Linked DNA regions of Homo sapiens: all the other regions are linked to region 1. Evidence: fine-mapped expression QTL. A gene starts in region 1. Each other region holds a variant in brackets. All regions are shown on one strand. Distances are from middle to middle. Region 1 holds the start of USP39 (ubiquitin specific peptidase 39). Region 2 overlaps USP39 (ubiquitin specific peptidase 39). Region 3 holds the start of RNF181 (ring finger protein 181).

Region 1 (8,174 bases):
ATCGCACCATTGCACTCCAGCCTGGGCGACAGAGACCTAGTCTCAAAAATAAAATAAAAACATTTTAAAAAAAGTAATAATGCTTAACAAAAATTGACCGTCATATATTAACCAGTGTGATCTCTAGGTAGCAGAGAAGCTGGGGAAAGGCCATTTACTGGGTTCATTCCGCAATTATGTGCTGGTCGCTCATCGCTGTGCCAGACTTTCTCTTTGCTAGGTAGCGGAGCACCTTACTAAAATACAGCACGGTGGGGCAAACCGGCAGATAAACTTCTTGCTGGCTCCCCGATACTCTGACAGCGATGCTTAACTGGGGGCTTATGAGTCGTCCCAGTTCTTGGTGAGAATCATTCAGCGGAGATTTGGGAGCGCTGAGGTGGAGGTTCCGGAAAGAGACGAGATGAGCTGAACCTTAGGAGTAAGAAGTGGTTTTTCCCTATAGAGAAGGGGAGTGCGTTGCAGGAAGAGCGCGCGGGCTGGAGGCAGGCGGGGCGGGCGGCCTCACCTCGGTGTCGCGGCAGGTACACCTGCAGGTCTGGCTTGCGGGGCCGCGTCGGCGCGGGCGTGTGCCGCCTCCTCACCTTCTCCTTGGCCGCCTGCTTCACCTTCTTGTCATAGTCGTCCCTGCGGGGAGCCGAGCGGGAGTCAGGGACTGTCGGGCCGGGCCAGGCCAGGCCAGGAGTGGTGGCGGCGGCGGCGCAGGGCGGGGCGGTACCGAGCGATCTGGTTCCGTCGGATATGGTGCACGAAGCCGTGGTTCATGTCCAGCCGCCCCCCAGGCTTGCAGCAGTGCCCCGGCCGGGGATGCGGCCCCGCCTCCATCAGGAGCCGGGGACGCAGAGTCGCCGCCGCCTCGACGGCCCCAACAACAGCCACCCGCCCACAGAGCTCCGCGCCGCCCCTTGCTCAGCTTCCGGCCCCGCATCCTGACTTCCGGTCTGGGAGGCCCCGGCCTGGCCAAGCGATGCAGCGCACGGAGTTTTCGGGTCTGGTCGGGTCGGGTGGAGTAGGGTATGCTTGACTTCCACCCCCCGGACGGAGGGCTTTTGTTTTTGTTTTTTTTTGTTTGTTTTTTCGTAACATATCAATAGGAAACAAGGACTTCGGCTTACAGCTGATACCAGAACCTTCAGAAAAATGCAAATCATCTATAACACAACTCGATGCTTACGGCGGTGCCTTCCCATCTTTTTTCTGGTAATAGGATGCTGTGCAATCCATCGCCATCTGCGTGACTTTGGCTGACTGTGTAACGCTGCCACTTCTCAGTTTCCTCATTAGTAAATGGGAACACCTAGAGCACCTACCTCAAATGGATTGTGAGGCCTTGAAGTGCTCAGGCAGGGCAACAGCGGCGCCCAGGCCGCAGGCGCCGCGAAGGCTCTCCTGGCCCGGCTTGCCTCCTGCTCACGGCGCCGATGGCTTAACTGTCCCCGCGGGAGGACCCAGGGTTTTTGAGGGACCTACGGGTGTATTATTTTCTTTTTTATTTATTTTTCCTTTTTTTTTTCTTTTTGAGAAGGAGTCTCACTCTGTCGCTCAGGCTGGAGTGCATTGGCGTGATTTCGGCTCACTGCAACCTCCGCCTCCCGGGTTCAAGCGATTCTCCTGCCTCAGCCTCCCGAGTAGCTGGGACTACATGCGCGTGCCACCACGCCCGGCTAAGTTTTGTATTTTTGGTAGAGATAAGGTTTCACCACGTTGGCCAGGCTGGTCTCGAACTCCTGACCTCAGGTGATCCGCCTGCCTCGGCCTCCCAAAGTGTTGGGATTGCAGGCATGAGCCACCGTGCCCGGCCCCTTTTTTTTTTTTTTCTATTTTTTCTGACCACTGGGTTCACGTCACAGCGTGTAAAATTCTCAAGTCCTTTTACAAAAGTCAAAATCAGGAATTCATGATTAGGACAGGGACAAACGGCTGGATGCAGTGGCTCATGTCTGTAATTCCAAAACTTTGGGATGCCGAAGTGGGAGTATCGCTGGAGGGAGGAATTTGAGACCAGCCTGGGCAACACAGCGAGACATCGTCTCTACAAGAAAAAAATACATTAAAAAAGAAAGAAAGAGCCGGGCGTGGTGGCTCACGCCTGTAATCCCAGCACTTTGGGAGGCCCAGGCGGGCAGATCAAGAGGTCAGGAGTTCGAGACTAGCCTGGCCAAAATGGTGAAACCCCGTCTCTACTAAAAAAAAATACAAAAAATTAGCTGGGCTTGATGGCCGGTGCTTGTAATCCCAGCTACTTGGGAGGCTGAGGCAGGAGAATCGCTTGAACCCGGGAGGCGGAGGTTGCAGTCAGCCGAGATCGAGCCACTGCAGTCCAACCTCCAAATCAAAAAACAAAAAACAAAAACAAAAAACAGGGACCAATGGTGGTCCAGCCACACGATGGAATATTACTGAGCAATCCAAAGGAAGATCTGTAGCTCAACAACATGGATGGATCATAAAATAAATATGCCCAGTGAAAGAGGCCAGGGACTCTGTATGATTCCATTTATATGAGACTCTAGGAAGTGCAAACTAATCTATAGTGACCGAGAGATCAGTTGATTTTTGTGGGGGTTCTCTGGGAGGAAGAGGATATCTTTGGGGCTGGGTAGATTCTTTAAATTTTTTTTTATTTTTTTATTTTTTTGAGGCAGGATCTCACTGTCGCATAGGTTGGATTGTAGTGGTGCAATCACTGCTCACTGCAGCCTCCACCTCTCAGGCCCAAACGATCCTCCTGCCTCAGCCTCCTGAATAGCATGCCACCATGCCCAGCTAATTTTAAAATTTTTTTGTGGAGATGGGGGGGGTCTCTCTATGTTGCCAAGGCTAGTCTTGAACTCCTGACCTCAAGTGATCCTCCTGCCTCAGGCCTCCCAAAGTGCTGGGATTATAAGTGTGAGCCACCGTACTGGGCCCAGATCCCGTCTCTTGATTGTGGTGATGGCTTCATGGGTGTATATGTTACAGGAAAGGGATCCCTATTCAGACCCCAGCAGAGGGTTCTTGGATCTTGTGCAAGAAAGAATTCAGGGTGAGTCCACAGTGCAAAGTAAAAGCAAGTTTATTAAGAAAGTAAAGTAGCCAGGTGTCGCGGCTTATGCCTGTAATCCCTGCACTTTGGAAGGGGAGGCGGGCGGATCACTTGAGGTCAGCACTTCCATACCAGCCTGGCCAACATGGTGAAACTCTGTGCCTACTAAAAATACAAAAATTAGCCGGGCATGGTGGCAGGTGCATGTAATCCCAGCTACTCAGGAGTCTGAGGCAGGATAATCACTTGAACCCAGGAGGCAGAAGTTGCAGTGAGCCGAGATCTCACCAATGCACTCCAACCTGGGTGACAGAGCAAGACTCTGTATCAAAAAAATAAAATGTAAAGTAGTGAAAGTACAGCTACTCCATTGACAGAATAGGGCGTTCCTGAAAGTAAAAGGAGGAACGCATCCACCATGGCTACAATGCTTGTTTATATATAGGATAAAAAGATCATGGGGAGATGTGCTCTGCTACAAGGGTTTGTGATAAAGGATTAATTTTATTATTATATTTTGCAAGAAGAAATATTATCTTTAAAGCAAAATTAGGAATGCCTTTATTCTCCAGATATTGGGATATTAGGACACTCCCAAGTCTGGATCTGTTTAGTAAACATTATCTCTCTGTTCCCTTAACTGTAGACATCTCTAGGCTAGGAATACCTAACTTCCTGGGAATGCAGCCTGTCAAGGCCCAGCCTCATTTTCCTAACCCTCACTCAAGATGGAGTTGGTCTGGTTGAAACGCCTCTGACATATACCGCAAGTCAGAATTCAGTAAATTGCACACAGTGTGGTGTGGTGTGGTGTGGTGTGGTGTGGTGTGGTGTGGTGTGGTGTGGTGTGGGTATGACAGAGTTTCACTCTGGTTGCCCAGGCTGGAGTGCAATGGGGCGATCTCGGCTCATTGCAACCTCCGCCTCCCGGGTTCAAGCGATTCTCCTGCCTCAGCCTCCTAAGTAGCTGGGTTAACAGGCTCGTGCCACCACGCCCGGCTAATTTTTGTATTTTTAGTAGAGATGGGGTTTCACCATATTGGCCAGGCTGGTCTCCAGTCCTGACCTCAGGTGATCCGCCCGCCTTGGCCTCCCAAAGTGCTGGTATTATAGGCATGAGCCACAGCGCCTGGCCTAAATTGCACACTTTAAACATGTAGTTTGTTGTATGTCAATTATACCTCAATGGAACGGTTCAAACAAGCAAACAAGTTCAAGGCAGGTCCTGAGGTTAGAGCTTTATTAGCTTCATGGTAAATCTGCCTTTACCGGGCATTTGCGTTTTCATGGTACCAAGAACCTTCTAAAAGTAGAATTAGGGCTGTCAAGGGGATGATTTGGGAATGTCGCCTAGTTTTCCTGTGCAGGATTGTCAGCCCCCAAGCCGCGGAGACTGTGGGAAACGACCTCACGGTGGTGGTTTCGAGGCACAAATCTGGGGCCGAATGACAGCTTCTTTGTTTTTGAGACGGAGTTTCGCTCGTTGCCCAGGCTGGAGTGCAATGGCGCGATCTCGGCTCACCGCAACCTCCGCCTCCTGGGTTCAAGCGATTCTCCTGCCTTAGCCTCCCGAGTAGCTGGGATTACAGGCATGCGCCACAATGCCGGGCTAATTTTGTATTTTTAGTAGAGACGGGGTTTCTCCATGTTGGTCAGGTTGGTCTCGAACTCCCGACCTCAGGTGATCCACCCGCCTCGGCCTCCCAAAGTGCTGGGATTACAGGCGTAAGCCACCGCGCCCGGCCTGACAGCTTTTATCCAGAAAACTGTCGCCAGTAAAGGTTCCCGTCTCAGTAAACTGTAAACGACAGTAGGCCCACAGAAGGTTCTAAGGGGAGAGGAAGCCAGTGCAGGAACAGCACCGCCCACAAATTTTCTGCAGCGTGATTTGTCCCCAGTGGCGACTCGTAGAGAGTTCGGGGCTCGCTACCAGCCCCTCTCCTGATTGGCCTTGTGCCGCGCGCTCGAGCGTGCTTGGCGCCTGCGCTGGACGACTCGGCCGGTAGTGGAGATGTCCGGCCGGTCTAAGCGGGAGTCTCGCGGTTCCACTCGCGGGAAGCGAGAGTCTGAGTCGCGGGGCAGCTCCGGTCGCGTCAAGCGGGAGCGAGATCGGGAGCGGGAGCCTGAGGCGGCGAGCTCCCGGGGCAGCCCTGTGCGCGTGAAGCGGGAGTTCGAGCCGGCGAGCGCGCGCGAGGCCCCGGCTTCTGTTGTCCCGTTTGTGCGGGTGAAGCGGGAGCGCGAGGTCGATGAGGACTCGGAGCCTGAGCGGGAGGTGCGAGGTGCGCGGGGCCGGGCCGGGCTAGGCGCGAGAGCCTGTTTTTTTCGCGTCCTTTTTTCTTGTCTCTAATCTTCCGCTAGGTCACTGCGCCGGAGTTGGGGGAGGGGTGGGGTTGGGGTGGAGAAGAGGAGGGATCCAGACTCGACGATTCTGCTGTTCGACTTGTTCTGATGAAGACAGTACCCTTCTCAATAATCGTATAGTATTTCTTTTTTCTTTTTTTTTTTTTTTTTGAGATGGAGTCTCATTCTGTCACCCAGGATGGAGTGCAGTGGCGCGATCTCGGCTCACTGCAACCTCTGCCTCCCCGGTTCAAACGATTCTCCTACCTCCGCCTCCCAGGTAGCTGGGATTACAGGCGCCCACCACCGCTCCCGCCACCACGCCCGGCTAATTTTTTGTGTTTTTAGTAGAGAAGGGGGTTTCATCGTGTTAGCCAGGATGGTCTCGATCTCCTGACTTCGTGATCCGCCCGCCTCGGCCTCCCAAAGTGCTGGGATTACAGGCGTGAACCACCGTGCCCGGCCAAACGTATGGTATTTCTAACTGCAAAAATCGTAACAACAGCAGCTTCCCTTTATCGAATGCCCGATGTGGGGGCTCAGTGCTGATTTTACAAGTGTTACTTCCTTCCATTTTAAAAAAGAATTTTTTTTTTTTTTTTTGCGTTTTAAGAGAAGCAAGTCTCGCTATGTTGCCTAGGCTGGTCTCGAACTCCTGGACTCAAGTGTTCCACTCACCTCGGCCTCCCAAAGTGCTGGGTTTACAGGCGTGAGCCACCGTGCACGGCTTTCCTTCAGTTTTTACATCTAAGGTCTTGTAATTTCTGTAATCAAGATATTCAGAATGCTTGAGCAATAGGCACCTCTACTAAAGTATGGATTATGTAGCACTTTTTAAGCTGAATAAAGTCTGGAGACAATTTTCCATTAGTCTCTTGAGTTTGTGCACGTACTGCGACCATTGCCTGACTGCCTTTTCTCCTGGACTCTCGTTAAGGATGTTCGTGTAGTGAGCAGCCTTGGAAGATAGAAATGGTGTCTCCCTACAAAACGAGGAGACAAGGGCACAATCCCTTATAAAAGATTTGGGGCAGGGTGTGGTGGCTCACACCTGTAATCGCAGCTACTCTATAGGATGAGGTAGAGTTCAAGACTAGGATAGGCAACAGAGCGAGACCTCGTTTGAAAAAATGGTTAATGGTTCAGATTCTCTAAGCACGGGGTTCGTCTCCTGTAAGGCAGCTCACTGTGTGCATGGGTTCTCCTCACTTTGCCTTGTGGGAATTCACTTGGAAAACTGACACCAATGCTATATTCCGGCTACTGTCATTGCTCTAATAAACTGTCCTTTATTTCAGGCCAGGTAGTCACATGCTTTCCATCAGCATTCATAAAACTGTGACAGGCTAACTTGTTAGCTTGCGAGTAGGGTAAGATCTGAGACCCACTCAAGTTTTTGACAAGTGGTAGATTTATAGATACACATGTACATTCTTTTTTTTTTTTTTGAGACAGTTTCACTCTTGTTGTCCAGGCTGGAGTGCAATGGCACGATCTCAGCTCACTGCAACCTCTGCCTCCCAGGTTCAAGCAATTCTCCTGTCTCAGCCTCCCAAGTAGGCTGGGATTACACGTGCATGCCACCATGCCCGGCTAATTTTTGTATTTTTTAGTAGAGATGGGGTTTTATTATATTGGTCAGGCTGGCCTTGAACTCCTGACCTCAGGTGAGCCGCCTGCCTCTGCCTCCCAGAGTGCTGGGATTACAGGCATGAGCCACTCACCCAGCCACTCTTTAAACTACGTAGTACATTTGTGGCCGGGCGCAGTGGCTCACGCCTGTAATCCCAGCACTTTGGGAGGCCAAGGAGGGTGGATCGCAAGGTCAGGAGTTCGAGACCAGCCTGGCCAACATGGTGAAACCCCGTCTCTTCTAAAAGTATGAAAATTAGCTGGGTGTGGTGGCTTGTGCCTGTAGTCCCAGCTACTCGGGAGGCTGAGGCAGGAGAATTGCTTGAATCCGGGAGGCGGAGGTTGCTGTGAGCTGAGATCGCGCCATTGCACTCCAGCCTGGGGGACAGAGCGAGACTCCGTCTCAAAAAAAAAAAAACAAAAAAAAAACGAAACACACAACTATATGGTACATTTGTATTACAATTAGTTTATTTTAGTGCTTGTGACATATTTCATATTTTTCATGCTTTATGGGATTTCTTTATGTAAAATGCAAACAAATCTTCTGTTGATTTTATGTATACCAAATATATTCTCCCAGTTTGTGGCTTGTTCTATTAGTGGGCTTTTTTCTTTTCTTTTTTTTTTGAGAGGGAGTTTTGCTCTTGTCGCCCAGGCTGGAGTGCAGCGGTACGATCTCTGCTCACTGCAACCGCCTTCTCCCAGGTTCAAGCAATTATCCTGCCTCAACTTCCTGAATAGCTGGGATTACAGGCACCCACCACCATGCCTGGCTAATTTTTGTGTTTTTTGTAGAGACGGGGTTTCACCATAGTTGGCCAGGCTGGTCTTGAACTCCTGACCTCAGGTGATCCACCCATCTCGGTTTCCCAAAGTGCTGGGATTATAGGCATGAGCTACCGCGCCCGGCTAGTGGACTTTTTTTTCGATATTGTTGCCACCCAAACAATAGGAACTCATCTTGATTAGTTTTTCCCATTTCTGTTTCTTTTTTTGTTCTGTTAGTTGGCCCTGAGTATAGGTTTCCCATTTTCAAAGCCTGTGATGATTTTCCTTTCAGCAAAGAATGGCCGAGTGGATTCTGAGGACCGGAGGAGCCGCCACTGCCCGTACCTGGACACCATTAACAGGTCAGTAGGACAGAGATGCTGAGTATAGCACAAGAACAATGGAA
Region 2 (8,174 bases), 33 kb after region 1:
CTTTTTAACTATTTGAAAGTTCTTCTTCCTTTTGGGGGTTTTTTGAGACAGGGTCTCACTGTCGCCCAGGCTGGAGTGCAATAGTGTGGTCCTGGCTCACTTTAGCCGTAATCTCCTGGGCTCAAGTGATCCTCTCACCTCAGCCTCCTGAGTAGCTAGGACCACATGCATGTACCACCATGCCTGGCTAATTTTTTTTTTGTAGGGGTCTCACTACATTGCCCAGGCTGGCCTTGAACTCCTGGGCTCAAGCAGTCCTCCTACCTTGACCTCTCAAAGTGTTGGGATTATAGGTATGAGCCACTGCCTGTCATTCTTTTTTTTTTTTTTAAATCATATGGGAAGCTGTGTAACCCTGTCATTCATTTTGGCATATTTTGTGAATTCCAACGCACCTGGACCTTCTTGACTCTGCAAGCCTACCCAGAGAAAGGGTCCTAAAATAGGGCTGAACAATTTTGTGGTCCGTTTGTGTAGGACAGTTTCCTTAACCTCACAGCCTTTGTCTGATTATTCCGGCTTTATTTTAACCATTAACAGAAATGTGGATCTGAGAGAATACTTGTCTGAAGAAGTACAAGCAGTACACAAGAATACCACCTATGACCTCATTGCCAACATCGTGCATGACGGCAAGCCCTCCGAGGGCTCCTACCGGATCCACGTGCTTCATCATGTGAGTGGCTGCTGACCGTCTCATGGCACAGAGTGGCAAAAACAGGTGTTTCTTTGGCATCTCAGAGGGCAGCTCCCTTCAGTGTGTCCTTGCTTGGCCTTGGCTTTGGGACTCTGCAAGTAATAGTGCTGTCAGTAGTTAGTTTAAGGCAGTGGTTCTCAATTTTGGCTACACATTGGACTCACCTTGGGAGCTTTTTTTTTTTTTTTTTGAGACAGGGTCTCGCTCTGTAGCCCAGGCTGGAGTGCAGTGGCGTGATCTTGGCTCACTGCAACCTCCGCCTCCTGGGTTCAAGCAGTTCTCTGCCTCAGCCTCCCGAATAGCTGGGATTATGGGATTACAGGCGCCCATCACCACGCCCGGCTAATTTTTGTATTTTTAGTAGAGACGGGGTTTTACGATCTTGGCCAGGCCAGTCTTGAACTCCTGACCTTGTGATCCACCCACCTCGGCCTCCCAAAGTGTTGGGATTACAGGCGTGAGCCACCGCGCCAACCGGGAGCTTTTTAAAATCCCAATGCCTGGCACCACACCAGGCCGGTTATAATAGTAGTTTTCAGCTGGGGCAGAGGCCAGGGATGTTGGTATATATTTTACAACACGAAGGACAGCCCGTGTTACAAAGAATTATCTGACCCTAAACATCAGTCAGCATTAAGGTTAAAGGCTCTCTGTTAGATTGTCTGGAGGTGGATGTCTTTTCTGTTTGATGTCTTTTCTATTTTTCAAGTTAATTGAGATGGGGTTGTGCTATGATGCTCATGCTGGTCTCAAGCAATCCTCCCGCCTCAGCTTCTGAAACTGCTGGGATTACAGGTATGAGCCACCATGCCTGGCTGGCATTTGATGTTTTGAAGTTCCCTGAGAGACCCTGATATGCAGCCAAGGTTGAGAACCTCTGCCCTAGACTAGAGCCTTACCATCCAAAGTGGGATGCATCCTTGGACCAATAACATCAGCATCAGTCTTGTTAGAAATCAGCTTGTTAGAAATGCAGACTCTCAGTCCCCTCAAACCTACCACATCAGAACCTGGATTTTAACGTGACCCTCTGATTTGTAAGAAATTAAAGTTTGCGAAGCACTGGTTTAGAGGCTCCCTTTCATCTTAAAAATGTTGTGGATTTGTCTCAAGTTGAAAACAGATAAAACATGTACTTGAGATATATTTGATATCACATAGATTATTAGCATAAATTGTTCTCATTTGATTAGCCTCTTCTGGAACTGTGGGTTTAATCTTAACTAGCTTCTGTTTATCAAGTGCTTTATTGTGGTTAGGCAGTACGCCAGTTACTTAATGTACATTAATCTCATTTCTTTCATTAAAACACACCTCCAAGACAGATGTCAGTATCATCTTTTTTACAGAGGAGGAGACCTAGGCTCAGAGTTTCAGTAATTGACCTCAAGTCAGTAGAATTAGGATTTGACCCAGGTACTCTGCTTCAAAGCCCATGTTCTTAACTCGTCCTTGAAGCAGGAATGGGAACTTACTTATGTGATCCTGAGCTTTCCTTATGTTTCCTATATTCTCAACTATTGTAATATCCAGAGGATCTGGAATATTTATATTCTACAATAATGGTCTTTGGTATTTCTTAGAACTTTGGTTGGATAAGACAGGTGGGCGGCCAGAGGTGCCTCTGCCTTAATCTAGAAACATTTTTTCCTTGTTCATGGAAGCATGAAGTGAGATACGTTTTGCTGTATTTGTAGCACTGGTTTCTTAGGCCAAAGGAATCAGGTTAGTGTGATAGACAGTGTCCACCAAGGACACCTTTTCTTGATGACCTGTTGCTTTTTTTTTTTTTTTTTTTTTTAAGACAGAGTCTCACCCTATCACCCAGGATGGAATGCAGTGGCATGATCTTGGCTCACTGCAACCTCCACCTCCTGGGTTCAAGTGATTCTCCTGCCTCAGCCTCCCAAGTAGCTGGGACCTACAGGCACCTGCCACCAGGCCTGGCTAATTTTTGTATTTTTGGTAGAGACGGGGTTTTACTGTGTTGGCCAGGCTGGTCTCAAACTCCTTACCTCAAGTGATCTGCCCACCTCGGCCTCCCAAAATGCTGGGATTACAGGCGTAAGCCCCTGTGCCCAGCCAGGAATGTCCATATTTAGGTTCTCTCAGTGGTTGACACTGTGTACCTCATAAGTGAGAATGTCTAGTCTGTCATTTCTGAGCAGGAAGGAGACATCATAGGTGATGATTAGATGGCTTCCTCTTTTCTCATCTTTAGTGTCCACTAAATTCCTTTTAAAAAGATGTACAGAAGTGTTTCAGACTCCATTGTACTTCAAGGGGCCAGGCGCAGTGGCTCATACCCATAATCCTAGCACTTTAGGAGGCTGAGGCGGGAGGATCTTTTGAGACCAGGAGTTAGCCTGGGCAACACAGTGGGACCCCATTGCTATTAAAAAAAAAATTAGCCAGTTTTAGTGGCACACACCTGTAGTTCCAGCTACCTGGGAGGCTGAGGGGAGGATCGCTTGAATCCAGAGGGTCAAGGCTGCAGTGAGCTGTGATTACACCACTGTAGTCCAGCCTGGGTGACAGAGTGAGACCCTGTCTCAAAAAAAAAAAAAAACAAAAAAACAACAAACAAAAAACAGTGCTTTAAAAAAATTCCCAACAGGAATTGAGTTTGCCATGATTGACACACCAAAAGTCCTATTAATTGAATCATGGCCAGAAGAAGTCATGTACCCTCTTCTTTATGACTGTTGCTGGATGATGTCTAGTGGCTGTTCTTCTAATTTTTCTAGTCTTGGCTATGATCCTTTCCTTCTACACCCTTTTGGTTTTAGAGAGCAGACTAACCCAGCTCTTCATACTTTCTGCAGGGGACAGGCAAATGGTATGAATTACAAGACCTCCAGGTGACTGACATCCTTCCCCAGATGATCACACTGTCAGAGGCTTACATTCAGGTGGGTTGGCCACAGGCTTAGTGAGCCACAAATAGGTGGCGTATGGGGCCAGTGAGAGGAGTGGGCCAAGGCAGGAAGAGGGATAGAGTTAGGACCTTGGTTGGAGGGCCAGGTACCTATTGGGAAGTACTTAGTAGTGAGTTGGGGGCAGAATGTATGGCCCTGAAAGTCAAGCAGAGATTTTCAGAAAAGAAGTATAAGGAAGTGTAGAAAATGTATGAGTGAGCAAAGAAAGTTGCGATTATGGCCAGGTTAGTTTTGCAGAAGTGTGCGGTCTGGTTTCGAGGAGGAAGAACCTAGACTCATCAGGGAGGCTGGCTAGAAGTCGACCACGAAGTGCTCCCCAGAGCCCCAGGCAGCTTTGTGACCCCACAGCGCTTTCTACTTGACGTTTGTTTTAGTGCCGGCCATATCGCTTTGCCTGTCTGTCCTCTCCATTGGATTGACCCATGGAGCACAGAGCATCTCTGTCTTCTCTTTATGTAACTGCCCTAGTACCTGGCAAAAGAAGGAAGATTGAGACAAAAGCCATAGCTTTGTAAGAAGAAAGTGATACCTCTCCTTCTAGAGATAACTTTTTTCTCCTCAGTGGCTGTAGCCACTGTAGCAGATTTCCAAATGGGGTATAGCAGATTTGTAAATGGGGTGACAAGTTGTCCATGGCCTGGCACAGAATAGGTATTTGATAAGTGTCTGTTGACTGAATGCCTCCTAGACTTCAGTTTGTGTTTTCATTTCTTACAGATTTGGAAGAGGCGAGATAATGATGAAACCAACCAGCAGGGGGCTTGAAGGAGGCGTCTAGGGCTTTGCTCCCAAGGGCTGTGGCTGATGATGGTAAATAAGAACACAGAAGCTGTAGCTGAACACAGGCTGGCTGGTGGGCTTCCTAGGCCAGCCCAGCTTGTATGGGTTCTGGCTACACCAGAGCACCAAGAGCCCACTTGCCTGGGATGGCCCCACACTGTCACTCAGCTGTTCTTTGATCATTTTTTTCTAGATTGATGCTCCTTTCTCCCATGCATTGAGCTCCCATCTAGCTTCAGCAGGGCAGAACCCTTCTCCAGATGTGTGTAACTTATGT[CT/C]TGAGTATCTGGGAGTAGTTGAAGAACAGATAATTCCTTCCAAACATCAAGCCTTGGGATTCTTGGAGCAAGCAGAAAGCCAGTAACTTCGCTCTGTTAGAGGTGGAGGATTTTCCTATGGTTCCCCCCATTTCCTGATTTGTATTTTTAGATGGATTAAATAGTCTCCTGTTTTTAAACCAGCCTCTTGTTTTATATCTTTTCCTTTGGTGGTTGGCTGAGGAAAATATTTTCCTTTTTAATCTTCACAAACTCTCTACCCTACAGTCTGACATCTGGTGCACATCACGCTCGCCCTTTCCTGTCAGCTTGTGGGTGGTGTGTCAGTTAGGATGCATTTGTTTCTAAGTAAAAAAATACCTGAGTCAAGGGGATACATTATTATTGTGCTTAACTAGAGGGCCAGAGGTGGGCAGTTTCCAGCTGCAGTGCAGGAATGAGTAAGGGAAGAGGAAAAAAAGGAAATAGGAAGCGCTTCTCACTACAGTGCAATTCTGAGGTGGTCTCAGCCAGTCCAGTGTGGAGCCCCAGGGCAAAGATTCCGTCAGACAATTCAGCAGAAATGGCTCCCATCAAGCTCAGTCGTGGGCTCTAGCAGCCTAGAAGAAGGGTGGCCTTGGCATGAGCACTGTGGCAGGTCCAAAGATATGGGAAGCAGCTGGAGGCAGCCAGTCAGCCCCAGCAAGTTCTGTTGAATGGAGACAGGAGCCCCGCACTCCTGTGGTGCCACCCTTTACCTGGTCACAACCTTGTCCTCACTTTCCTCTACCTCTCTGGAAGCTCCAGTATTTCCTTAGGAGGCTTATCTCTTCTATCCAGCCATTAAATTTGGGTTTTCTCAAGATTCAGTCCTAGCGTCACTCTTCTTGCTGTTTACTTTTTCCCTAGGCCATTTCAGCTATGCATTTTTATGGAAATGACTCATAAACACATCTTAATCCCAGATTTTTCTAAACTCTTGAACTTCGCTCTGTTGCCCAGGCTGGAATGCAGTGGCACAATCTTGGCTCACTGCAACCTCCACCTCCCAGGGTCAAGTGATTTCCGGCTAATTTTTTTATTTTATTTTATTTTATTTATTTTATTTTATTTTTTAATTTTAATTTTTATTTTAGAGATGGAGTCTTGCTCTGTCGCCCAGGCTAGAGTGCAGTGGCATGATCTCAGCTCACTGCAACCTCTGCCTCCTGGGTTCAAGTGATTCTCCTGCCTCAGCCTCCTGAATAGCTGGGATTATAGGCGACCACCACCGTGCCCAGCTAATTTTTGTATTTTTAGTAGAGACGGGGTTTCATCATGTTGGCCAGGCTGGTCTCGAACTCCTGACCTCAAGTGATCCACCCGCCTCGGCCTCCCAAAGTGTTGGGATTACAGGCGTGAGCCATGGTGCCCAGCCCTATTTTTGGGTGTTTTAAAGTAAACTCAAACTTAACATTGTTTAGAACTGAGCTTGCCAGGTGTGGTGGCTCCTGCCTGTAATCCTAACACTTCGGGAGGCTGAGGTGGAAGAATTGTTTGTGGCCAGGAGTTCAAGACCAGCCTGGCCAACATAGCAAGACCCTATTAGCCGGGCATGGTGGTGTGTGCCTGTAGTTCCACCTATCTGGGAGGCTGAGGCAGGAAGGTCCTTTGAGCGCAGGATTTGAGGCTGCAGTGAACCATGATTGCACCACTGCACTCCAGCCTGGGCAACAGAGCAAGACCTTGTCATTACAAAAAAGAAAAAAAATTGAGCTTGTGAGTTTCCCTTTTTTTTTTTTTGAGATGGAGTCTCACTCTTGTCCAGGCTGGAGTGCAGTGGTGTGATCTCAGCTCACTGCCGACCTCTGCCTCTCAGGCTCGAGTGATTCTCCTGCCACAGCCTTCCGAGTAGGTGGGACTACAGGTGTGCGCCCCACACCCGGCTAATTTTTGTATTTTTAGTAGAGATGGGGTTTCACCATGTTGGTCAGGCTGGTCTTGAACTCCTGACCTCAGGTGATCTGCTGACCTTGGCCTCCCAAAGTGTTGGGATTACAGGCATGAGCCACTGTGCCCTGCCATGAGTTTCTCTTTCAAACTTGGCTATTTTTGAGGTGAAGATTACACTATCCAGTTAGAGAAATTCATGTATAATAATCTGTTCAGGGAAAGTTTAATTTCAATAATTATTAACTACAACGGGTTTGTAGAAACGGGATTAGTTAGTAACAAGTAAAGTAAAGAATGTAGGAATAACAGATACAAAGAGCTGCCACTAGTTCTGGGGCTGACAGTGTCCAAAGCTGAGATCCAGACCTTGCTAAAAATATGCCCTCTGAACCTCGTTAAAAATCTGCTTTGTAGTGTACTCAGGAAAGCCATTCACAGGTGTCTCCCTGGAGGCCTCTGCTATAAAACTGTCCAGGGAGGAGAGTGCCAGGTGGAGCTACTGGGTGCCTGTGCTGCTCAAATGTATATGTGGTCTCCAAAAGCCAAGAAAAACCTATCAAACATTGTGCGTGCGTGCGTGCGTGTGTGTGTGTGTGGTGGTATGAGGTACAGCCACCTGTCTTGGAGAGGATATTTTGACATAACTCTATACTGTTGACTTCCGAGAAATGTCTCTGAGGTGGCAGGCCCCTGAATTGTTTGTTTGTTTGTTTGTTTTGTTTTTTTCTGAGAACGGAGTCTCGCTCTGTCGCCCAGGCTGGAGTGCAGTGGTGCGATCTCGGCTCACTGCAAGCTCCACCTCCCGGGTTCACGCCATTCTCCTGCCTCAGCCTCCTGAGTAGCTGGGACTACAGGCGCCTGCTACCACGCCTGGCTATTTTTTTGTATTTTTAGTAGAGACGGGGGTTCACCGTGTTATCCAGGATGGTCTCAATCTCCTGACCTCGTGATCCGCCCGCCTTGGCCTCCCAAAGTGCTGGGATTACAGGCGTGAGCCACCGTGCCTGGTTCCCTGACTTGTTTTTGGGTTTAACTCCCAACTTCTTATTTATGTCTTACTAAGGCATCTAAAGCGCTTGGTACTTTCTGCTCATCAGATCCAACAGCATAGTGTCATCACTGTAGTGGACTAGTGTGATATTTTGTGGATTGTCAAGATGATCAAGATCTCTGTGAACTGTATTATGCTAGAGAGCAGAACTGACATAGTCCTGAGGTAACACTGTGAAGGTATACTGTTGGCCCTGCCAGGTAAAAGCAAACTACTTCTGGTGATCCTTATAAATTGGTATGGAGAAATACCAATTTGATTCTAACTTGGTAGCTCCATACCAAGTGCCAAGAGCTGTTGTGTATGAGTAAAGATGCTACATCTGGCCCCAGGCGTGGTAGCTTACAGATGTAATCCCAGCAGTTTGGGAAGCCAAGGCAGGAGGATTGCTTGAGCCCAGGAGTTCAAGACCAGCCTGGGCAACAAAGTGAGACCCCATCCCTCAAAAAAAAAAAATTAGCCAGGAGTGGTGGCATGCACCTGTGGTCCCAGCTACATGGGAGGCAGGAGGATCACTT
Region 3 (8,174 bases), 21 kb before region 1:
AGTGGTTTGCCTGACCTCTCTTGAAGCAGGTTGCTTTTCTAGCTCATGGGTAAATATTGACCTATTTGGGTTTCAAATGCCTGCCCCTCGAAACTCATGCAGGGCTAGAAAAACATGCTGGGAGAACATCTCTTGAGAATAAGAATTGCTTTTGGTTAGGCTGTATCGTAATTGGCCCACTCACTGATTCCTTGCTTGCAATGGTCAGCACTGTGCTGGCCTCCCGGTGGGATGGTGGTGGACAAAGGCAGGGCACTGCTCCCTGCCCTCCCTCTGGGAGTTTGTGGTCCAGCTGGGGAGATAGGACTCATACAGTGGGAATTCTTGGAGGCTGTATACCAAGCAGCTGCAAGGATCCTGAAGGAGGATTCTTGGCTGAGTGGGAGGTAGCCCTCTGTGACCACCAGATCTCTTCTAACACTTAAGTTTTCTGGTTTTAAGTGGAATTCAGTCAAGTGCCAAAATGTCTGTTGTAGACAATGGGTGACGTGGGCTGGCAGGAAAAGAAGCTTGCCCTTCTTGTAAGGAGGGGAAGGGAACAGGGATGGGCTGTGGGGAAGTAGGCTAAGAGGAAGGAGTTTCTGTGGTTTGCTAATCCACTGGTATTCATCTCCCTGAAATGTCCCTGCTCCTAGGCTTCTGGCTTATACCAGGGCCTCCTGCCTGGTGTCTCTCTCTGTTACGTGCACCCAAAGCCCAGTGCCTTTCTTGCACATGACCCAGACTTTCTCTCTCCCCTGTCATTTCAACCTTCCCCAGCTTGGATCCAAGACCTCCCTTCCCAGTCCTCTGAAATGAGCTGGTGTTTTCTGTTAGGCAAAGCTGCCCCCCAGGCTGGGAAATCCAAGAGTTAGTCTCATCTCTGTAAGTTGGACCCCAGTGAGGACCCCAGCTGAGTGGAAGGCTGGAGGCCAAAAACCGGTACCACTGAGGTTCCCAGACGGAGAGGGAAGTTGGAGCAGTGATATAGGGAGCAGGATCAGGCCAGGAGGCAGAACTGGCCTGACCAGTCAGAGGCCCAAAGAGGAAGATCTGAGCTTCTCAGTTTGGGGATAGAGGGGTTAGGCAGAGACTATGATGTGTGCTGCTTCAAAATTACCTTTCTAGCCTGTAGGGTAGGTCTCCTCCCTGTGTGTTCCAGCCAGGTAGCTTGGTTACCCATTCTTTGCTGCCTTCTTAGGCCAGTGGGAAACCTTAGGGCAGCTGTGCATTGATTGGGTAGACGCCATTCTGGAGCAGGTGAGAAAAGAATCAGCTTTGTGGGAGGGTGGGGTCCTGGGAAGATCCCACCTTGGGACAGCTTAGAGGAAGCTGAGGTGCTGGAAGCCGGGACTTACCTAGGTCCTAGGCCCTGCCTTGACGTGCAAGGGGAGGAGCCTGTGAGACTTAAGGTGTGCCGCACTCACCCCGAAGGCCAGACCTTCACTCCGCACACATCATACCCTTACACGAAGGATGCTGTTACTCTCATGCTGTACCCACCTACAGGGGGAGAAGGAGGCTTCTAGATCTCAGGGGCAGATGAGGGCCAGGTGGGGGCCTCATGCAGCCCTGACCTCGGGCTTGGTGTCCAGGCAGGAATAGAGTTGGAGCGGTGCCAGCAGCAGGCGAACGAGGTGACGGAAATTATGCGTAACAACTTCGGCAAGGTCCTGGAGCGTGGTGTGAAGCTGGCCGAACTGCAGCAGCGTTCAGACCAACTCCTGGATATGGTGTGAGGCCTGGGGGAGCATGGAGGGGAGGGGAGAGGATTGGGAAAGTCTCTCTTGGGCTGTATTCAGGATCTCCAGTTCCTTGGTGGGGTTGAGGCCTTCTTGAGGGCCAGTGTGGGGCCTCTGGGTTTCCTCAGGCACCCATAGCCTAGACATGCAACAGATAGACCCCACAAGATAAGAAGGCCTTGGTTTGAAGCTGTGGACCTTCTTAAAGGTAGAAAACTGGTATCGTTTTTTGTTTCTTTTTTACTTTGAGACAGAGTCTCACTCTGTCGCCCAGGCTAGTACAGTGGCACAATCATATTTGCTGCAGCCTCTACCTCCCAGGCTTAAGTGATCCTCCTGCCTCAGCCTCCTGAAGAGCTAGGACTACAAGCCTGCACCACCATGCCTGTCTAATTTTTGATTTTTTGTAGAGATGAGGTCTCACCATGTTGCCCAGGCTGGTCTTGAACTCCTGGATCCAAGAGATCCTCCCACCTTGGCTTTCCAATGTGCTGGGATTACAGGCATGAGCCACTGTGTCCAGCCTGAGTACTGGCATTGTTAACTGAGGGTGAGACACTAGGGCTGAAAGTCAAGGGCCACACCGGTGTTTGAGATGAGTCAGGCTGGGAGGGTTCCACGGCAGGTGGTATAGAAAGAGAGCAGACAAGGCCGGGCGCGGTGTCTCACGCCTGTAATCCCAACACTTTGGGAGGCCGAGGTGGGCAGATCACAAGGTCAGGAGTTCAAGACTATCCTAGCCAGTATGGTGAAACCCCATCTCAACTAAAAATACAAAAATTAGCCGGGCGCAGTGGTGTGCACCTGTAGTCCCAGCTACTAGGGAGGCTGAGACAGGAGAATTGCTTGAACCCGGGAGGCAGAGGTTGCAGTGAGCTGAGATTGTGCCACTGTACTCCAGCCTGGGTGACAGGGAGAGACTCCTTCTCAAAAAAAAAAAAAAAAGAAAGAAAGTAGACAAGATGGGGAGGATGCAGGAGGAGACTAAGCCTTACTGAGATGGGGTTGGGAGGAGCTGGCTCCCAGGCCAAGAGGGTGCCAGCTAACTCCCACTTTGTGTCTGGGGGTATCCGCAGAGCTCAACCTTCAACAAGACTACACAGAACCTGGCCCAGAAGAAGTGCTGGGAGAACATCCGTTACCGGATCTGCGTGGGGCTGGTGGTGGTTGGTGTCCTGCTCATCATCCTGATTGTGCTGCTGGTCGTCTTTCTCCCTCAGAGCAGTGACAGCAGTAGTGCCCCACGGACCCAGGATGCAGGCATTGCCTCAGGGCCTGGGAACTGACCCAGCTGGTCCTGAAGGAGAAGCCAAATGGCTGCACTGGCCGATTCTGGTCTCCAGAGGACCTTGGTGTTTGCTCTCCCTTGACCCACCCC[A/G]GTGAGTGCCAAAGGGCAGCCCCAACATGTGCACCCCTGCATTTCCTGTCATGCCACAGACTGGCCCTTGAGGGCAGCCTGCTGTACTGGCCATGCTGGGCCAGCCCCACCTGGAGCTCAGTAAAAACTGCTGTTTGATTAAAAGCTGGTATCTGTGTGTGAAGGTCCCCAGGTTGGTTAATCCCATCTGTCTCTACCCCTAGGGCTGCTTAAAAAGCCCATCACCCAAAGGACTCCACCCCTGGGAGATGGCTCCTTCCTCTCCCTTCCCTACTTGATCCAGCCCGACACAGACAGGGAGTGTGGATGCAAGAACACAATGGCCCCCAAAGCAGACCCTTGAACCAGTCCTCCCCATCTGAGCCTGTTTCTCTGAGAATGAAATCTATTATTTTTCTGTCATCTTGGGGATGCTTAGAGGACCAATGAGACTGTAGATGCGATGACAAAGAAGAAAGCACTTCACCAATTTTTTTTTTTTTTTTTTGAGACAGAGTTTTTGCTCTGTTGCTCAGGCTGGAGTGCAATGGCACTATCTCAGCTCACTGCAAACTCCACCTCCTGGGTTCAAGCAATTCTCCTGCCTCAGCCTCCCAAGTAGCTGGGATTACAGGTGCCCACCATCACACCTGGCTAATTTTTGTATTTTTAGTAGAGACAAGGTTTCACCATGTTGGCCAAGCTGGTCTTGAACTCTTCACCTCAGGTGATCCACCTGCCTCGGCCTTCCGAAGTGCTAGAATTGCAGGCATGAGCCACCGCGCCTGGCCCAAAAAATTTTTCATAAGGCTCTCACCTTCAGATAAATGGTTTCCCCTCTGAACACTTCCCACTCCTCAATTTCTCTTTCCACATTCTATCTACCTCAAGCTTTACATCAGACTGCAGATGGGGGAAGTGACAGCAAGAGATGGGGACCTTAAAGCACTCCTTGGTATTCCCATCTCCCTCCCTCCCTTCCTTCCTTTTTCGACGGGGTCTCTCCTGTGTCTTCTCTCCCTCCCTCTTTCGACGGGGTCTATGTTGCCGAGGCTGGTCTCGAACTCCTGGGCTCAAGCAATTCTCTTGCCTTTAGTGCTGGGATTGCAGGCGTGAGCCACCATGTCCAGCCTGAATTCAGGCTTTTCAAAGCTACAGGGCCATATAGGCCAGGGAGGCAGTGCCTTCAGGGCCATAGCAAAGATCATTGGGCAAAGGCATGGAAGAAGGAAATAAAGCCACACCAAGACTGTGGAAACAGGGCAGCCTCTGCCTGGGCTACTTAGCTGCAGTTCAAACTCAGGTGTGAGTGGCAAGGGGAATTCAGGGTCAAGTGTGTAAAATAAGCAGTTCCTTGCTGGGTAAAGTGAGCGCTACTGACAGAAACCAGAATAAGCCTGAGTTGTGTGGAGCTTCACCCCTTACAGAGCGTGTTAGTTTTACTGAGCGCATTAGCGTCTTCCTCTCTTGGGAAAGATGGAGGAAAGCACTTGGCCCTGCAGCTGGTCTGCAACACCACTTACAGACTGCAAATTTGGGCAAGCCACTTCTGAGGTAAAAAGGGCATAATGACGCTTAGCTCCTGGGTCTATTGAGGGGATGATCGAGCGTGTAAAACATACATCAGACTAACAGTTCTAGATGCTAAATAGTACCTATCATCCAAATCATTGAGTGCAGTGGTTCTTAAACCTGCTTCACCTGCATAATTTATACAAGTGCCATTGCCCAGGCCCCACCACAGATCAGTTAAATCAGAATCTTCGAAGGTATCAGACACGGGTGTTTCTAAAGCTCCTCCGCGCCCATTCTCTCCTCTGGGAATTCATGTGTAGCCAGGAATGAAAAGGTCTTAGTACAAGCCAGCAGTTTTACAGAAGCTAGGGATAGCAACGGGCTGAAGGTAACAGTCCCATGAGCTGGTTGAGGCCCCAGGTTCTCCGGCAAAGAGATCTCTCTCAGTTGGGGAGGCTTGCCCCACCCTTTATTATTATGCCTAACACATAAGAAATGCGCAGGAATCAAACGCAAACTGGTGAACCAACTAGAGGGCCGCGGGGGCAGAAGTGTCCGGCGGGGATCCGGACAGCGCATCCGGAAGCGCCATGGGCCAACGCTCGCAGGAACCTGAACCCCTGGGCCAGCGCCGCCTTTGCTCGCAGAGGCCTCTAGCATCTGTACTGTCGAAGCCCTCTGAGCTTCAGGGCAGACTGAAGAGCCTTACACACCAGACACTTGGACGCGATCGCGCCAGAAATCCCCGGGAATTCAGTCTTGGCTCCGACTCCAAAACAAATGATTCCTCACCAGCCAGATCTCCATCATTGGCGTTAGTCTCTGGTCACCTGACTTGTTCAAGCCAATGAGAGGGGGCCGAATTAGTACTTCCGCTTTCCGTGCTGTTTAACGAGCCACTATGCCCGTCCCTCGGATACTCTGATTGGCCAGCCTCTCTCAGCTCGTCAGTTTATTGGCCAGCGCCGCTAGGCCGCTATCGAGCAGGGTCCGAGGGCTGTGTCAGAAGGCTGGGCAGCCATGGCGTCCTATTTCGATGAACACGACTGCGAGCCGTCGGACCCTGAGCAGGAGACGCGAACCAACATGCTGCTGGAGCTCGCAAGGTGGGTGCGCGGGGCTTGGGGATAGGGTCCAACCAGCAGGTTTCTGGGCTGGGGCTGGCTGGAGAAGGCGGATTACCAGGGGCAGCGGATTCTGGGGAGGACAGATGAGTAATCTGGAGTGTTAGTACGGGCGGCGAGACTGAGGGGTGTGGGGATGAGCATCTCGATAATTTGGGCCGTCCGTTGGGCCGGCCTGGGGCAAGGGGATTGCGGGAAAGATTGGAGCTGGAGAGTGGTGGGCGTGGGGGCGGAAGGACAGCAGGCTCTGGGAGGTCTCAGAGAAGGTGAGGCATGGGGGCGGGGTTGGGGCCGTGTGCTGTGAGTGGGTATATTCATCAGTAACAGCAGGCACTGCTGTTACTGGACCTGGAATCTGGCTTGGTCTTGGAATCTGGGCTCTACCAGGTTATTCAGCGTAGCCTGAGTAACTTCTCTGAATCTGTTGCCTCATGTGTAAAATGGGAATAAACACTTTACGTGCTGGGGCGGTCTGATAGCAGTTGTAAACTATTTCCCATCGTGCTTTTTATCTAGTGAGCATCTACTAACTACTAAGGGTAGCTATTATTCCTACTAGCTGGGCAGCGTGTTTATTAATGTCCAGTGGATTATGGGGACAAAGAAAAAGCATAGTTTTCCTTTGTTCTGACTTTACATCCCCTTCCCCAGGTCACTTTTCAATAGGATGGACTTTGAAGACTTGGGGTTGGTAGTAGATTGGGACCACCACCTGCCTCCACCAGCTGCCAAGACTGTGGTTGAGAACCTCCCCAGGACAGTCATCAGAGGCTCTCAGGCTGGTGAGGACACTGATTCTTTCTGCTATTTGGGCCAGACCCACCCCTTCCCCAAGCCAGACTGTGGTCTGGTCCTTCAGTTTTCCAGGTCAGGTGGGGGCAAGTGTCCTTCAGGAGTGGGAGCTTGGGAGGCAGAGCCTGTAGCAGCTCTCCTGATCAGCACTCCTTCCTAAAGAGCTCAAGTGCCCCGTGTGTCTTTTGGAATTTGAGGAGGAGGAGACTGCCATTGAGATGCCTTGCCATCACCTTTTCCATTCCAGCTGCATTCTGCCCTGGCTAAGCAAGGTACTGCTTCTCTTCTTCTAGCTCTCACCGTGCCCTGGGCCCAGTACTCAAGCTTCTTTCTGTTCATGGACTGCTGGGGGATGGAAGAAGAGTGGCAGTTGGGAGCAGGGGAGGGTGGTTATCAGCTTATGAAGATCAGACCAAGGCTAGAACACTACTCTACTTTTCTCAGACAAATTCCTGTCCCTTGTGCCGCTATGAGCTGCCCACTGATGACGACACTTATGAGGAGCACAGACGAGATAAGGTAGGGGCTGATGCTTAAGTGGAGGGGTCGTAATGGGCTCCCTGAGTCCTGTCCCCGCTGCCATCACTTCCCACCTCAGCAGGACTGGGTAGGCCTCAGAATCCCTGGCTCTGGCTGTCTTCTTAGTGACTTTGATTTGTGGTGAGAGCCTCAGCAATGCAGACGCCAGAGGCCTGAAAACAGAGCCAGCCCCATAATAGCTGCCCATCCCCTCACCCATAGGCCTTCAGTTTTGGCCCCTGCCCAGCATGCCTTCTTTCCTTCAGGCTCGAAAACAGCAGCAGCAACACCGACTGGAGAACCTCCATGGAGCCATGTACACGTGAGGAGGTTGGGGCTGAGTGCTGGCCCTCTGCGTCTTCCTTATTAACCTTGAATCCTCATTAAAGGTTTCTTTACCCACCCTGAGGCTGTATTGATCACAGACCTGGCCAGGGGCTCTGCATCCTCCATCAGGTCTCTACTTCTGTTGGGGAAGGTGATCCTAAATCGCAGAAGGCACCAGGCTGCGGTTTTCCTCCCTGCTGGCCCATCTGGACTCATGGCAGTGGTAAAGAACTGGATTACTGCAATAGCCAGGGCTTGGGCCTATGTGTTCATGGTTGGAAGGCAAAATGTGTCAGGGTCTGGTACCCAGTTAATTACTTAAAGCTGATAAACTAGGCTGGGTGCAGTGGCTCATGTCTGTAATGCCAGCAGTTTGGGAGGCCAAGACAGGTGGATCACGAGGTCAGGAGTTCGAGACCTTCCTGACCAACATGGTGAAACCCCGTTTCTACTAAAAATACAAACATTAGCTGGGCATGGTGGCACGCACCTGTAATCCCAGCTACTTGGGAGGCTGAGGCAGGAGAATTGCTTGAACCTGGGAGGCAGAAGTTGCAGTGAGCTGAGATCATGCCATTGCACTCTAGCCTGGGCAACAAGAGCAAAACTCCGTCTCAAAAAAAAAAAAAAAAAAAGCTGATAAACTAGCCTGCACCCTCCTCCCACTGCAATGTCTAGTTAACTTTGTAATCCCACAGGTTTTCTTTTTGCTCCATTGAGAAAGCCACTTTTAATATTTTAAAGTTGCTCTCTGTACCACCCCCACCTTCCCCCCATGCCTCCTAAGGAATCAAAGTTCAAACCAGACTCTGAGTGGGG

Evidence for each region.
Region 2: its variant is fine-mapped to the expression of USP39 in whole blood (TOPMed, PIP above 0.99).
Region 3: its variant is fine-mapped to the expression of USP39 in whole blood (INTERVAL, PIP 0.99).

The regions. Positions count from the first base shown.
Region 1 is chr2:85,611,160-85,619,333 of GRCh38, forward strand. USP39 (ubiquitin specific peptidase 39) reads left to right here and starts at 5,027. Exons shown (of 13, transcript NM_006590.4): 1 at 5,027-5,304; 2 at 8,061-8,130. The coding sequence starts at 5,037. C2orf68 (chromosome 2 open reading frame 68) reads right to left here and starts at 907. Exons shown (of 4, transcript NM_001013649.4): 1 at 719-907; 2 at 509-627. The coding sequence starts at 825. RefSeq lists silencers at 678-1,059, 679-748, 1,235-1,407 and enhancers at 1,019-1,248, 4,691-4,740, 4,771-4,820.
Region 2 is chr2:85,644,408-85,652,581 of GRCh38, forward strand. It overlaps USP39 (ubiquitin specific peptidase 39), which reads left to right. Exons shown (of 13, transcript NM_006590.4): 11 at 541-676; 12 at 3,523-3,609; 13 at 4,354-4,876. The coding sequence ends at 4,401. Among named protein-coding and RNA genes, the nearest start is that of SFTPB, 20 kb to the right of the region's middle. The variant CT/C (reference allele first, on the strand shown) is at 4,694.
Region 3 is chr2:85,590,151-85,598,324 of GRCh38, forward strand. It overlaps VAMP5 (vesicle associated membrane protein 5), which reads left to right. Exons shown (of 3, transcript NM_006634.3): 2 at 1,575-1,712; 3 at 2,798-3,256. The coding sequence ends at 3,007. It overlaps RNF181 (ring finger protein 181), which reads left to right and starts at 5,595. Exons shown (of 5, transcript NM_016494.4): 1 at 5,595-5,699; 2 at 6,369-6,499; 3 at 6,672-6,781; 4 at 6,954-7,028; 5 at 7,295-7,558. The coding sequence starts at 5,614. The coding sequence ends at 7,354. RefSeq lists enhancers at 2,542-3,043, 3,044-3,543 and a silencer at 5,487-5,626. The variant A/G (reference allele first, on the strand shown) is at 3,100.